Regions from separate parts of the Homo sapiens genome. Here region 1 is linked to region 2. The links come from fine-mapping of genetic effects on gene expression. Tissue or cell type: whole blood. Region 2 holds a variant in brackets; the other region holds the start of a gene. All regions are shown on one strand. Distances are between the middles of the regions.

Evidence for each region. PIP is the estimated chance that this variant, and not a neighbour inherited with it, causes the effect.
Region 1: ME3 starts here. The variant in region 2 is fine-mapped to the expression of ME3 in whole blood (TOPMed, PIP above 0.99). The same link has a PIP of 0.9 or more in tibial artery.

Annotation. Positions count from the first base shown.
Region 1 is chr11:86,668,258-86,676,365 of GRCh38, forward strand. It overlaps ME3 (malic enzyme 3), which reads right to left and starts at 4,359. Exons shown (of 15, transcript NM_001161586.3): 1 at 4,067-4,359; 2 at 3,505-3,701. The coding sequence starts at 3,687. RefSeq lists a silencer at 6,730-7,024.
Region 2 is chr11:86,454,369-86,462,476 of GRCh38, forward strand. The region is part of intron 8 of ME3 (malic enzyme 3); the gene reads right to left. Among named protein-coding and RNA genes, the nearest start is that of CCDC81, 84 kb to the left of the region's middle. RefSeq lists an enhancer at 5,605-6,133. The variant T/C (reference allele first, on the strand shown) is at 4,315.

The sequences.
Region 1 (8,108 bases), 210 kb after region 2:
ATGTTGGATGAGAACAATTATTTTCAAAAACTTTTTGTTACTACAATCCACAGTAAAAATAGTCATTTTACATGCTGACCTGATAAAATATCCATCTTTATTAACTTCAATGCATTTGCTATTTTTCTATTTCATTCTAATACATTTCTTTAAAAAAATTGCTGGTAGATCCACTAAGCTAATTTCATGTCTCATAGTTTGTAACTCATAGTCTGAACAATTCCAGACTAGATCATCTCTGAGGGGCCTTCCTACCCCAATTATGGAAATCATCCTCATTATCACCTAATATTTACCACATGGGGGCTGTCTCCTATGATCCTCAAAGCAGTAGTGTAACACGGGCAGAGGAGCTTATGAGATTCATCACAGATCACATGGCCAGAGCATGATGGAGCTGGTACCAGAACCCAGTGAATGCACAATAGCAGCAATGCTTGCCCTGGTCGGCACCTCTTCTCTCAGATAATTCCACCTCCTGACCACCCTCTGTCATACAGCTGCGACTTAAATGCCACTCCTAATCTGTCGAAATGAGCTGCAAATCTAGTGAACACATTCCAAGAATTTAATGTTAAGCTAGATCTTTCAGGCACTACCCCATGCCAAACACAGGTGGACGAATCTCATTACCTGGCCTGGAAGGGCTCTCCTTCTAACAGAAAAAAATCCACCCACAGACATGAACACTAAGCACAGCATTGAAGACTCTTTCAAAACTGCACTTCCATTTTGCTTCCTCAGTAATAACCTCATTGTTCTATTTAACCTCAGCACTATCTTCCCACCTGGCTGATGCAAAGTACCAAGGCTCAAGCCTTCCATGGAGACTCTCTGAGCACTGGAGGACAACAGAACAGCCAGAGGGTGGCACTCCAGTGGGAAGAGAAGGGCACTCACAGTAACTCCCAGGAAGCACTCCCTCTGTTGCTCCCCTTCTGTCCCCAAGGGTGAGTGAATAGGGGATGCCAACAGGCTGTCAGCCTCCTTCTAGATACCCTTCTTATCCCAGACAAGCATCAGCTGACTTCAGGAATATATAAAAGATGTTGTTTAACATCATGGAAAGGTCAGGTCCTTAGATTTATGGATAACACCTGTATTAGTCTGGTTCTTACACGGCTGTGAAGAAATACCCAAGACTGGGTAATTGATAAGGAAAAGAGGTTTGATTGACTCACAGTTCCACATGGCTGGAAAGGTCTCAAGAAACTTACAATCATGGCGAAGGCACCTCCTCAGAGGGTGGCAGGAGAGAGAATGAGCGCTAGCAGGGGAAATGTGTCAGGCACTTATAAAACCATCAGGTCTCGTGAGAACTCATTCATTATCACGAGAACAGCATGCAGGGGAACCACCCCCGTGATTCAATTACCTCCCACAGGGTTCCTTCCACAACACGTGGGGATTATGGGGATTATAATTCAAGATGAGATTTGTATGGGGACACAGCCAAACCATATCAACAACTTATTTATAGTACTTGGGAGAAAAAAATTTACATCAGAGGCAAACGACAGGGGCAAGAATGATTTCAGGGGACCAAAACCTAGGTTTTAAAAAAAGACTTAAAGATCTTCCTTCATTTTCTTAACTACTTAACAAAGCAATAAATGCTGGTTGGTAACATGCCAGTAATTCTAAGGCAATTATTTTCACAATGATTGGAGCCTGTAGTGGGAATTTATTGTTTTGCTTTCTACATCCATTCCTCCTCCTTCTGATGACACTATCCATATTTACTGTGAGGATCTATATTCCCTTTATTCCAAGCCAGATGGTGTGGGTGGCCCTACCTTAAACCCCATTTTAACTCCAGGGGTGGGCTCTGACCGGCTTTAATTACTGGTGATTGGTTTTGGTTTGGGAATGGGAAGAGAGAATCTAATCAGAGTCAATAAGGCAGAAGGATTCGCTTTCTGAGGCGTCAGAGAAAGGGTATTTTCTCTTCCCCAAGAGCTACCAGAATAAAAGTATCTTTCTATTCCTGGATGATGTGGTGTGAGAACAGGAGATGGAGGACTGTGGCAATAACGAAGTGAGAGACTTCACTGAATAGAGCTTGAGGATGAAACTGACCTTGCAGAGAGGCAGAGTAGAGAGCCAGAGAGAATCTGCATCTTGAGCAATGCCATCTGGGCTTGTGGTTCAAGCCGTGCCTGCAACCCTTCCTCTAGATTCTTTAGATAAAGGAGCCTTTGTGTGCTTAAGCCAGTTTGTATTTTCTAACGCTTACTAGCAAAGTAATTCAAGGTGATAACAAACACCTTGAACACTTTGGAAAGTGGTAGCGTCCAAACAATTTAAGGTTTCTTTTGGAAAGAGCAGGACTCCAATGTGATAGAGGTTGATTTTGATTTTTTTTTCCTTAGCCGCTTCTATTAGTTCTGTAGGAAACAGTCACAATACTTCACATTATATAGTTGTTCCTACTTCTCAAAAACATCTTTTCCATACAGACTGCCTCACCTGAATTTCACAATCCAGAGTCAGAGCAATTATGAAAAAAAAATTTATTTTGCAGTAATTGTTATTCAGCACTTTATACAGTTTAAAATATGATTTCAAGTTCAGTGATTCATTTTATTGTCACAATAACCAAATGAGATAGAAATGGTGGGTCTATCATAATATCTATTTTAGGCTGGAGAAAGTTGGGCCTCAGATAAGTTAAATGAGATATGTGAGTTAATTTGAGGAGGTAGGGGGAGACAGGACTAAATCTGTCCTTGCTTCTATTTCTCTCACCCAATCCTCTGAACCAAAGATACTAAACTCTATTCCCAAAAACAAATACAAAAGAGCTAGCGGTGGGTTGAACTCGACCAAAGCATTGGAGATCTGGATTCCAGTGGCAGAGCCAGAACTAACTAGCTGGTGACCTTGGGCAAGTTTCCTTTGTCTTGTTTTTTGTAAAAGAAGAGGTTTAAACTAGGATCTCTAATGCTCCTGCAAGCTCGAAAATTTCTATAAGTCTAGACTTTTCCATCCTTGCTCTCAAATTAATCTTTTTCTCAGAATAATAATCATAACCTTATTTATTCTCCCACTGGGTACCAGGCACTGTTCTAACGTACCCCCATTTTCTACCCGCATTTTCTCTTTAGATCTCACGACATTCCTAAGACAATTATATCTCTTTTACAGATAAGGAAACCTAGGCTCATGTAGGTTAAATGAACTGCCCAAGACCAATAAAATTAGTAAGCATCAAGGGGAGAGCTGACCGCAGGTCAGACTGACCGCGAGGATCTAAACCTGGTCTGTGTTGTTACTGCAGAAGAAATTAGGCTCCCTGCATTACTGGTCGCCTCTCTCCACGCATAAAAGGGAGAGGAGGGACAAGAAAGCCAAACCAAGTCACAACAAGCCCCTGCAAGGCAAAAACAGAAAAACCGCTGGAAGGGCGCCCGGGAGGATCCTTTCTGGGTCCAGGGGGCGGGGCGCAATTTTCCGGCAGCCACGGGATCGCAACGCGGGCCGTCCTGCCCTCTGGCCCATTACCTTGTTGAGATGAGGGTTCCTGGTGACATCGTATCCGCGCTTCTTCAGGGGCACAGGGCGCGCCGGGCCAGGCTTGGAGTGGCAGCCTTGGGCGGGCGCGGTGGGTGTCCAGCGCGGGAGGGCGCCGCAGGCCCGGCCCGGCCAGGGAGCCAGCCGCGTGCCTGTCCCCAGCGCGGCACCCATGGTCCTTGGCAGACCTGGCACGGGAGAGAAAGCAAGGTCAGGGCCTCCTTCCAGCCAGCCAGGACCCACGCGCGCTGCGGGGCACCGGGCCTGATCCGGGGACGCGCCCTCTGGGAGAGGGCAGGTGCTCCCAAAGGGTTAAATGTTCCAGCCCCCGCCACTCCTCGGCTGCCACCTGCTCGGCTCCGCGCGGGGCGCCAGGCCTAGCCAAGAGCCAGGCAAAGCGAAACCAAGCCCTGGAAGCAGATCCGGTGCGGGTGACAGCCGGCGCCACCCCTGCCCCCATCCCTGTGAAAAAGAGGCGACTGCGCGGCGAGGGGTCCCCGTACCCCTAATCCCGCGTGGTGGCTTGCCTCGGTCCTCTCCTTCCCTGGCCCACCTGCGCTGCTCGGGGAGCTGAGGTCTACGCGGTCCCGCTGCGGAGCAGGCGGGGTGAGGAGCTGCGGTCTGTGAGTCCTCTCCCGCCAATGGGTGGACCGCGCTGGCGGCCGCGAGCTCGCGGAGCTGGTGAGTTCCTCAAAGAGCGGTCCCACAACCTTTGTTCTCAGTGCCTGGCTTCCCCTGAGGACGCGCGTGGGGCGCCTCAGCACTGCGTGCACGTGGTTTTCCCCAGTGACAAGAAGCAGCTCAGAATGCCCGCCTGAGACTCTCCATCTTGGCAAGACTAAATGCACAGAGGGGGATTTGCGTTTGGGGGTCAGCATATCCTCGCACTCTCCCAACATTCGGGGAAGGGCGTGCCTTCAGGATTTGGAGTAGAAATCCTCAGGCATTCGGTGCTCAGTGTTGCCTTGTGCTGTCCAATATAATAGCCATTCGCCACGTGTGGCTATATAAACGTAAATAAATTAGTCTATATAGAATAAAATTTAACATCCAGTTCTGCAGTCACGCTAGCCACATTTCCAGTTCAAGAGCCACTTGTATGCAGATACAGAACATTTCTGTTTTTGCGGATACTTCTATTAAGCATCATTGACATAGGAGCCACAGTTACTAAGAGGACTTCTGAGGACCCCATGGAGTTTGCCATGGGTTATTGGGGCCAGACAGGGATCTTGGGGTCCATCTAGCCCCAAACTTAATTTTATACTTTCTCCACACAGTAGTCAGGAGATTCCTTTTAAAGCAAACACTTTGTTGTGTGTGGAATAAAATCCAAACTTTCAGGGCCTACAAGATTTCCCATAAACTGGCTCTTGCCAGCCTCTTCAGACTTATCCTACTCTACTCTTTCCTTCTCACTGATCTCTGGCCATACTTGATCCTTCCTGTGTCTTCACCCCACTTGGTTCCCTCCCACTGCAGGGCCTTTGCACTTGCTATTGCCTCTCCTTGGAAGGCTCATACTCCAGCCTTGCAAACCACTACTTCATTCCCACCTCTCAGTTCTCCACTAAGTTGTCAACTCGAAGGCCTTTCCTCTATCCCATTCAATGTCAGCCTGCACTAGGAACTATAGAGTGAAGGGGTTTTTCTCTTTAGAGAACTTAACACAGTCAGTAGCGCGCTTGTTTTTCTGATTGTTTACTGACTATCTCCTGTCTAGAATGTAAGCTTCATGAAGAGAGGCTCTTTGCCTGTGAACCTGTGTGTCCTCACTGCCTAGCTCACTGCCTGGTATGTAGTTGCACAATAAATAGTTGTTAGGTGAAGGGAAGTGGCAGCCACTTTCATAAGGATCGTGAACCCTTAGACTTACTGACAGACAGTTGGCACGGTCCTCTGCTGACACCCCTTCAAAGCTCCCGGTGCCAGCATTAGCCCCGTTGTAAGTACCAAGCAGACATCATGGCCCATAATGTGCTAAGGGGTGCTCCTGCCTGAGTTCAGGATTCCCTCATCCCTTCAGGAATAATCGTCTCCTCCTGCAGTCTCTCTCCTCCCTGTGTAATATCTAATTTTCAACTTGAATGATCTACGTAAAATAGTTATTTCCAAAACAGAATTACAATTACCTGGTAGGAAATAAGGATGGGGCAAAAATACAGCTTTCCAGGCCCCATCCATGAAGATTCTCATCCAGTAGGGTTTACATCCCTGAAGTCAGGTTTACTCTTGGACTGCATATTTACATAAGCTTATAAATGATCTTTTTTTCTGCCTTAAACCAGTTTGTGTCAGATGTGTGATTGTGTGCAACCAATAGTATTAACTAAATCCTTTCAACACTATTTTTATATTGGCACTTCTTCCCACCAGTCAACATCTTTGGGGGGCAGAGATCATGTGTGTTTCCATCTTTGGTATCTAGTGCATGCAAATATTTGGAAATTGATTGTTGAACCAGTTTGCCCTTGCTGAATACAATGACCTTTCCCTCCCCTGGAGGATATCTAATAGGTAACTTTAGTCATTTGAAACCAGGATGTAAACAACAAAGGTTTCCAAACAAGCGAACATAATTTTTATAGCATCAATTCACTAAAGCTTGTACAGTTTACATATAAAAGTCTCTTACATGTCCTCACCTGTGGCCTATATTCTCTTAACCCAGGCATAATTCTACAATGTTGTTTTGTGTGTGTGTTTGTTCTTTGGTGACAGGAAAGAAAAGGTTAAAGGCAGGTCCACCAGGAGCAGTGACAGAAGGCAGTAGCAAGAGGAGGTGGTGGCTTCTCAGTTCCATACAGTTGTCCAGGGACCCAGGTTTTCTCTTTTGCTGCCAGGCTCTTCTGTAGCTGTTGCCCGCCTCTACACAGCGCTAACACCATGTTAGCATCCCAGCCGTGGAAAGCGGGAACAAGGAAACAGAGGGAAAGCAAATCGATTTGTTTTTTTAATTGGGACAGGGTCTCACTGTGTTGTTTAGGCTGTTCTTGAACTCCTGGGCTCAAGCAATCCTCCTGCCTCGGCCTCCCAAAGTGCTGGGATTACAGGCGTGAACCTCTATGCCCAGCCAAAGCAAATCTGTTCTGTGGAAGTGACATGAAAGTTGTATATATTACTTCTACTCACATTCCATTGGTAAAAACTAAGTCACACATTCATATCAAGCTACAGGGAGGGCTGGAAAATATTGTTTGTAGTAGGAAAGGCATGTATGTGCTCTACTGAAGTTCAGTGGGGAGTCTATTACTAAAAGGAAGAAGGGGAGAATGGTTCCTAGGGACCACTAACTAGAAGTCTAAATATAATACTCATTTTCTGTTGAAGTGCTTAGCCCGTAGTGGGTGATCAGAAACTGTGAGCTGTTTTTATTGGCACGTGTGGTTTCCATTTCTGCTTTTGTGGCAACTTCCTTACTTTTAGAGCTGAATATAGGATTTCAGAGACCAGGTTCAGAACCATGGAAACATTACAGATCTTCTTCCAACTCCATACAACTCTGACTTCCTTAGCCAGCCAGGAAGTTGGCTTGTGATCTGGTGATCTGGTCCAGCACTATATAGAACTAATGGGTCTCCATAATTTGTCTTGGCCCCTCTCCTTTCATATCCCATTTACTGACTTCTGCCATCATTGTAATGATGCTTCTTGGGATGGCAGAGAAGGAATCTCATTCCATCTCCTCCAGCCAACAGTTCCATATTCCAGGTATAGTTAATACTTTTGCTTTTCCATTTTGATTACAGAGATTTAAATATCTACCTGTTTCCCTACTAGATTGTGAATTCCTTGATGACTACAACCACCATTTATAATTCTTTGCATCTCTATACCTGGGAAAGTGCCTGGCACTTAGAATTAACTCAGTTTCTTGAATTAAATATAATTGTGGTTCAAATTTGTGCATAACCTTCCAAGGAGTGGAATTAATTGAAACTAAATTTGGTACATTGTTAAAAGGGCACAAAATGGCTTCAAGTCAGATTTTTAACTCAGTCAGCTATCTTAAAACAAGATCTCTTATCTTCTGAAAGCAGATGTTAATGACCTTACACATGGATTTTAAAAAGGAGGTGAATATAAAATTCATTATTTTTCAGTTAATCCCATTGCTTCACAAACTTATTCGTAATATTCTGCACAACATTTAATGTTCATGATTGCCCCAAAGAACTCTTTAAATTCATATTGCTGCTAGTAATATTTGTAAGCACTTCAACTCTATCATTATTATTATTATTTGCAGCAAAGGAGAATTATGGGGATCATTTATTTCTTCCTGGTCTGCATACTCATCACTCTGCTTATGTGCCCTGAACTCTGGGCCTTTGCTCAGCAGTTTCCTCTGCTTCCAGCATCTGCCAGTTGAAGCCCTGTCTGTCCTTTACAATTCTACTCAAACACTACCTCCTCCAATGAGCCTTCCGAGAGTGCCAACCAGCAGCTTACCCTCCCTCCCTGATGCCCACAAACTCTGCTATTTTTATCTCTCCTATTCACTTTTATTGCACTTTTGAAAATCTCTCCTATTGTGCAAAGAGGCTCATAAAAGTGAACACCTTTAAATCCAGATAGTCTGGACTCTCTACCAG
Region 2 (8,108 bases):
TATAATACAGAATGCCTGGAAATAACCTACACATCTAACAAAGGAGTAATGATTAAGTAAAGTAGCCAGTGTAGACACAGTAGACTGTTTTATAGCTATTAAAAATGATCATCATGAATATTATGCAGCAACATGGAAAATGCTGTGAAGCTAGTCACTAACATCAGATATTGTTCCAAGTACTTTATATGTCTTAACATGAAGACAGTTATTCATTTAATCCTCATTATTGCCATCCTCATTTTACAGATTGGGAAAATAAGGTATGGTTTGCTGAATTGTACAAGATCATATAACAGAGCCAGGATGTGAATCCAGGGAATCAAGCTCTAGGGCCTGTGTGCTTAAGCACTAACCTATGTTCCATTGAGTTGGCTGGAAGGAAGAGAACATTAAATAGTATACATTTATCACACACATAGAATCCAGAAGGAACTTACAAAATACTAATGGTTGCAGGGTGGGAGTATGAGTGAATTTTCTATATTCTCTGTTTCTAGTTTTCCAGGTGGCTTATTTTTAGCTAGCTCTAGGGTGGGCCTTCTCCTAGATTTATACTTGGCTCAGTGGCTGAGATAGGGGGTACAGCAAACAGTTGGTGGCCAATAAGTGCACATTCATCATTGTGGACATCAGAAGGCGGGACTCTATGCAGGATCATACTTCTCAGAAGATGGGGTGCAGGCACCCCTGTCTTCACACAGCTGTGGCCTAGAGGGAGTGCTGAACTGTTGGCAGTGTCACAGAGACAGGGCTAAGGATACTGGGACTTCCTAACATCCTTCCCATGGTCTGCAAAGTACACAGTGTGCACCCTCTGAGGGCCTACAAAGTGACAGGCACCATGCTAGGCACTGTCGAAGACAGATGAATCAAACATGATCCCTGCCATCAGAGAACTCCCAGTTTACTAAAACTTGGGCACAAAACAGTAGAACACAGTGGGTAGTCAGAGATCACTGGAAATTGTTACATTCATTTATTTTTTGAGCATCAATTATGAACCAGGCTCAGGTACTGAGGATACCATGGTAACAAAATAGACCAAGCTCATTTCTGTTTGTAAGGAAAGAAATTACTAAATGATTACAAGTGTGATGGCTTTTATAAAACAGTTGTTCATGACATACTTTTTGTTAGTTTATGTACAGAAAAGTATGTTATCAGTATCAACCTACCTCTGCAGTGCCTCCCCGTGTACTCCATGTACCAGTAGCTTTATTCATTGTTCCCTACACATATCATGCATGTTTATACTTAGGTACATTTCCCCTGCTATTCTACCTATCTAGAAGACCATTTTGCAGTTCATTATTCCTTAAGACTGCCCAAATGATCAGCAAGACATTCCTTGCTACCCCAGGCATCCTTAACCATGCCTCCTTTTCCCATATCTACTTTTTTATCTAACCTGAATGAAGCTGGACTATATCATGGTCAGGCTCAGCACTGTACTGCATTCAAAAGAAACACCAAGCTGACATCCAAGGAAGTATCAACAAGCAGTTTAAATAAGTATTTAAATCACTTAAAGAAAGGGCGAGGAGAATTGCATTGTATGACCCTCTTCTGAAATCCCCAAATCCCCTTTGTCCTTAATTTTCTCCAAAGTCCACTTATTATGTGGCACTCCCTATTTTCTCTGCCTCCCTCCAAGTAACTCCATACTTCTTACTCTCCGCCCATAAAACTCTCTTTCATTTCAGTTCTACGGAGTCAGAATTTGTATTTAAAAAGATCTCCAGATGATTTGTATGCCATTCCAGTTTGAGATGCACTGAACTAGATGGCCTCTCTAGGTGAGGTACTAGTTTCCTGCCATTGGCTAGCGGGAGTTTTCTGCTCATCGGAGTCTGTTTCAGGACAGCCTTTTGCCTCCCTGAAAGGAGGGGTTGCGCAAAGCATTTGCCACCAGATGGCGCCAAAGGTATTCCATCAGAGATGATCCCGCAGACACTACACTCTGGATGGGTCTTTTTCTTTTTGGGTGTCAACCGTCTTCTGGGGTTATTTGCAGGTTGAATAACTGGGCTTCCTCACAGAAATTCGGTGCTGGATGGGGATTGGAGATCATGGCATTTAACAGTTGTACAGATGAGGAAATTGACAGAGAAAGGTGGCTTGGCCCTGTCAGTCACCCAAAGCAAGGAAACCTGGGGGTTTCCTTCCCAGGTTTGCTTCCATCCCTTCATGATCTCTGCTGCTCAGACAGCCCTTCCTGACTATAGTTGAAGGCAGCAGGAGAGGTGTTATGGGGTTTCTCTGGGGAAGGACGGAGCAGGGTGGTAGCAGAGGCAGAGGGAAGTGAACTTAGGCAGTAGATGTCAACATTCAGCTGTACCTCTGGAAGGGGAGGGGAGCTCAGAACAATGGGAAATCTGATGGGAAAGAGTCACACATTACAATAAAAGGATGCAAGGTCAGCTGCCATTTATTGATCACTCTTACTGTGGCCTTGGCTCTGTGCTGTGTGCTTACCAGCACAGGATTTGCTCAATTAATCTTCCCAACAACTCCATGAAGTAGGGACTACTGTGCTCCTATTTTTTGCCCTTAAAAGTGGAGAGTGACGCTCAAGGGAAATGGAACTAATCAGGACAGAACTTCTGAATCCTTTCACCACCAAGTCTTCAGACCCTCTGCCTCCAATGTCCAAGTACTTGCTTTTCCCCCTGTTACCATCGATGCCTCCCTGCTTCTAGCTAAAGCACCACTTGTCTAATGGATCCCATCATTTTTGCCTACTTGTCCCATTATTCCCACTCCTATTTCCTGCATATTCAATTTTGCCCTCTCTACTGGATCATTCTCATCAGCATACAAATACACTGTAAAACTTCCATCTTTAAAAGGCCCTCCCTTGGTCCTATATGTCCCACCCTATTTCTTACTCTCCTTTATAGGCAAACTCTTCTAGAGAGCTGAATATATTAACTGCATCTAGTTCCTTCCTCCTTGGTCCCCATGAAACCCAGTCCAATCAAATGACTGACCCACCTCTTGTCAGGGTCCCCAAGTACCTCCAGGTGGCCAAATTCAGTAATCAGTTCTCAGCCTTCTTCTTTCTTGACCTCTCAGCAGCATTTGGTACTGTTGCCCATTTTTTTCCTTTGGGAAGCTATTTCTGCACTTGGTACAGGCCAGAACTCAAGAGGAAAAACAGTGGTTCTTAAGCTCCAAATTACAAAATTTGGCAAATAAAGTTATCTCCATCATTAACCTGCATTTTTGGGGTGCTCTTGGGCTATGCACTAGGGGTTTAAAACTGGAAAGGAAGCTACTTAGCTGTTTCGAGGTAACCACTCTGAGAAGCCCATGGGTCCAGGGATGTGCTGGAACATGACTTGTGCCCATAAATGCCATGGGCAGCTGAAAGTGTGGCAGGTTGTTCCTATTCATGGTAAAAGAAAAAGAAGTTTTTTTTTCCAGAGGGAGATTTCCATAATTACATTTCCTGCAAACTGAGTACTTGAGGTTGTAGCTTCAGGAAATAGCACAAAAGGACATGCTGAAAATGTAGTTTCTGCTTTTAATAGTCAGATTTGACAAAGTTAAAGGAGTTGCCATGCTGAACAATAGATTATTGGAGGAAAGAATTTACTGCTTTATCAGGTAAGGGAAAACTTCTGACCCAGGCAGCAAGAAGGACAGAAAGAGTTAGGCTCTGTCAGGGTCTGGCCACGGTGGCTTTGGAGGCCTGGATCCCTATTGGGACAGAACAACCTCTGCTATGAGGCCACACCTGCTTCCACGATCCATAAGAATTACCTTTCTACAGTAGATACTGCCATTCATTTATTCATTAGTATGTGCTGAGTGTTTGTTCTGGGCCTTCTCTGGGCTAGGCCTTGAATAAATAAAGACAAATAAAAGTCTTGTTCTCAAATAAAACTCTCAAGGAGTTGCTAGCATAAGTGTTCCAAAAATTCAGATTCCCCTTTATTGGACACCAAGCAAAGGCTTTCTACATTACTTCAGTGCAATTTTGTGTCATAAGGGAATTTTCTGGAGCTCCTGGACTCTCTAGAGGGCACTTCTCTGGCCAATGGAGAAGATAGGGTTAGGCCTGTTTTGCCACAATTTGGAAAGAACCAGAAGGAATGATGATCATCTTCTTGGCTTCTCTGGAGGTTCGGCTGTTGCAACAGCTAAAAGGGGAGATCTCGGAGGAGCCAGATACATGAGATCCACATGAACTTCAGGACTAGGAACAGCCCTGGAAGTGAAGAACAGCCTCAGAATACAGGACTTAGTGAAAAGGAAGGCTTTGGGAACAGAGGAGAGAAAAGGTTAAAGAGACCAGGGGAAGTTTCA[T/C]GGCAGGGGGAGAGATCAAGGAAAGGCCTAGAACTGCTACTCAGTGTGTGTAGTGGTGGTGGTGGGTGAGAGAGAGGGCAGTTGACCCCCGACAGCTGGAAATAATCCCTGGCATCTTGTAAACAAGACAAACGAGCTGCACGGTCTTCAGAGATGAGCCAGCCATTCCTGCCTGTCTGCCTCTTCCCTATTGTGGCATCTGAAGCCTGTGCAAAGTCCCCCACACCTTCCCTCTCCAACAAGGTCATTATCTTCCAGGGATGTATTTTGCATTTCTTGGCTGAGAACCCTACCCCTGGCTCACTTTGAAGCCTTCTGTAAAGTGGGTGACCACCGTCCAGTGTCACTCCCAGATCCTGGGGAAGAGTGGGATCATTTAGAGTCTGTGGCTTGGCCCTGGATGCATTATCCTGGGGGAAGTGAAATGAGCCTTTATGGACAAACAGAAAGTAGTGAAGAACAGGAAGAGAATTCTAGGCAGAGGGACCAGCACATTCAAAATCATGGAGTTGGCAGAAAACTCACAGAAGAGTGACTAATACAATGGGCTGGAATAATAGGGAATATGTGGGAAAGGGGAGAAAAGTGAGATGGGGCCCTGCTTCTCTTCTCCCCAGAGTTCCCCAGTCCTGTGCTCACATGTGGCCCTCTCCTCACCTCCATCAAAATCTCTGCCTTAAGTCTCCTCTTTCCTTCTTCCCTCCCGTATCTGTGTGTCACGAGCCTATTAGGCATCAGAGATTATAGTAATAGGTACCATGAACTGAGTACTGCTACATGCCTGTCCCTACCTATACATCACTTCAATCCTTACAACAATTCAGTGCCATAAACGGGTGTTGGAAATACTTAGCAAGGAATTGGCATAGGCTGCAACCAACCATAACAGATGCTGGCCTTATAAAAAAACCCTGACCATTCTGGTGGTACTAGCTGATGAGCAGTTGTGGCTGTTAAAACTGTTAAGTCCATTTTACAGATAAGGAAAGGAAGGTACCGAGAATTTCAGCCACTTGTCCAAAGCCACAAAGCAGGAAAATGGGGATTCAGACCTAGGCTTGTCTTGGTGAAATGTCTGATTGTTAAGCATTGGACTCACAGGGGGTGCTAATAGCCTGACATAACACACAGGAGCCTTTATGGGCGTCTGGCCTGGAGATTTAGCAGGATTGGTGGACAATGCAGGTCCAGGGAAGGCTGGCCAGGTGGAGGAAGCTGCAGAGCTGATGAGCCAGTGGGGCTTTCCTGGCTCCAGCCATGCTGTGTGGTCAGCTTGCAGGTGGAGGCCAGGGACCCACGGAAACTGGGTCAGCAGCACCCTGGACCTGGCCCCTTGTGTGGCTCTCCTTCCTTCCCCTGTCCCCAGTGTGACCATTCCCACTGCCTTTCCCCTTCTAGGCCTTTCTTTCCTCCCTAAGAGCAGAGATGCTTCTCTGGTCCCAGCTGAAACAACAAAAGTCACCTGAGCCTCTGCCTTTTCCAAAATTCCTGAGAGGCTGCCAGCAATGAGTCAGTGCATTGGCAGCTCTGATCACCAAGGACCAGCCTGGGCCTGGGCCAAGGCTTTATGTGGGTCTGAGCTGGGGTGGGAGGCAGAGATGATGAGAAGCCCTGGGGAGCTCTCTTCCCTTCAAGTGCTCGGGCTTCAGAGGCCCAGCCCCTTGGGGTCAGTGATTCTGAGCACATGGTACAGTGGGACTGGTTGGGAGACAGTCAAATAATGTGCCCTAGGCTCCTGCTCTGCACCAGGCATGGCCCTGCCCTCTGGGAGATCAGTAGAGTGGGGCTCCCGAGGATTGAATTCTATCTATCCACTGAGGATGTGAGGCTAGGCTGGTGTTCAGAGTAGGTAGCATGACCCTAGTCTCATTTTCATGTGGGTTGCTCGATTCCAGCCCCCTCCATGTGTGGTTCCCAAGAAGATTCTGAGAATCTGTCTCCAGCTCCCACGTGTGGTGTGATTTGGTTTCTGTTTACAACTATGATTCTGCATCGCTTCCTCCTCCTTCCCACACTCCCTCTCACCCCTTCACTCCCAACCCTCTGTGGTTCTGTGCATGGAGATGCTCCTCTCCCATTATGAGCATGGCTTGTAGTCTTAAGTGGCATTGCTCCTTACTTTGTATTTGGAGATAAAGGGGGACCATTGCAGCATGGGCTGTATCTGCCATGTTGGCTCATTAGTCCTGGAATTCCTTACCAGTCTTCTCATTGTCTGCTTAACAATGAGAACACACATCACAGGCTTCTGGCCTGGACCCATCCCTAACCAGCTTGTGACTGTGGGCCTCATCTTCAGGTCTGCATTCTGTAGGAGTTAGAGGAAGGAATGGGAACGATGGGGAGGGCAGGATGACAGCAGCAGGATGCCAGGGAGCAGTGACACCCACACTGTTTCAGCAGGGTCTGGAATTTCATCCTTAACGAGAAGATACCCTCCACCACTTCACACGTGCAGGAGCAACAGGCAGCCTGATGCCATGGAGAGAGTGGAGAATTCCAAATCAGACATAATGGGGTTCCAGTTCCAGCTTTGTGTCTTTTGTCTGGCTGTGTGGCCGTGAGCAAGCTTTAACCCCCTGGGCTTCAGTTTCCTCATTAGTGACGTGGGACAGCTGTGTTTGTCCCCCAGTGAGGGAGGGGGGGATGTTGCCAGGCACTTGTAAGATAGTGAGGATGAAAAGCACTTTCAACCTTAAGTTCTGTGTGCATGCAAAATGTTATTTGGTACAGTTTGGGTCCCCTGGAAGAAGATTCTGAGTTATATTGGAGTGTTCAGGATGTTTTTAGGAAGTGCCCTTGTGGGAAGGAAGGGAAGGAAGCAGAATGAGTTGAGAGGGAAGTTGAGCTGTGATGCAGGCCCCAAAGCCTCAGCCAGCTCCATGGGGAGCTTGAGTTGTCCTGCACTGGGCTAAAATAGTTAAGCCTTCATATTCCCTCATCACTGGGTGAGGCCAGGCCCTGGTGGGATGGCGAGGTGGCTCTCTCTCTCTGAGGCTCTGCATGATGTGCTGACAGCCTTGCTGTCAGCTGGGCAACAAGTCTTTCCTTGAAGGAGGATCTGGGTGGCGCATGCTCCTGCCCACCTCTTTATGGTTGTTAATGATATGGTCACACCTAAACATCAGGCTGAGCTGATCAAAGGCTGGTTCTTACAGGGCTCCTGCCATTCCAGCACTATTTGCCAGCTGTCCTCATGAGTTCTAGATTGATGGCTTTAGTCTTGAATTTCTGAGAAAAGAATGGGAAGTCCTTCTTCTCTTTGCTCTGGGACCCAGAAAACCATCCCACTTGGTTTTGCCTGGGAGCAAAATTGGCTATAGAGGCAAGACACAAAAACCAATGAATGTAAACAAATGGATTGATTTAATTAAAAACAAACAGCTCCATGTGTCTGCATGTGGGGTACACATGTGAATATGTATGAGCACATGTAGAGGTGCATTTATATGTGAGCACAGTCAATCCTTGAACAACATGGGGTTGAGCTGTGTGAGTCCACTTATATGCAGATTTTTTCAATACATATATTTTTTAAAATTTTGGAGGTTTGTAACAATTTGCGAACACTCACAGATGAACTGTGTAGCCTAGAAATATCAAAAAAATTAAGAAGTTAGGTATGTCATGCATACATAAAATAGGGATAGATACTAGTCTATTTATGTGTTAATCCACTACTGATGTTATTAGTAAGGCTTCTGGTCAACAGTAGGCTATTAGTAGCTAAGTTTCTGGAGAGGCAAAAGTTATGCAGATTTTTGACTGTGTGGGGCATTGGCACCTGTAACCAC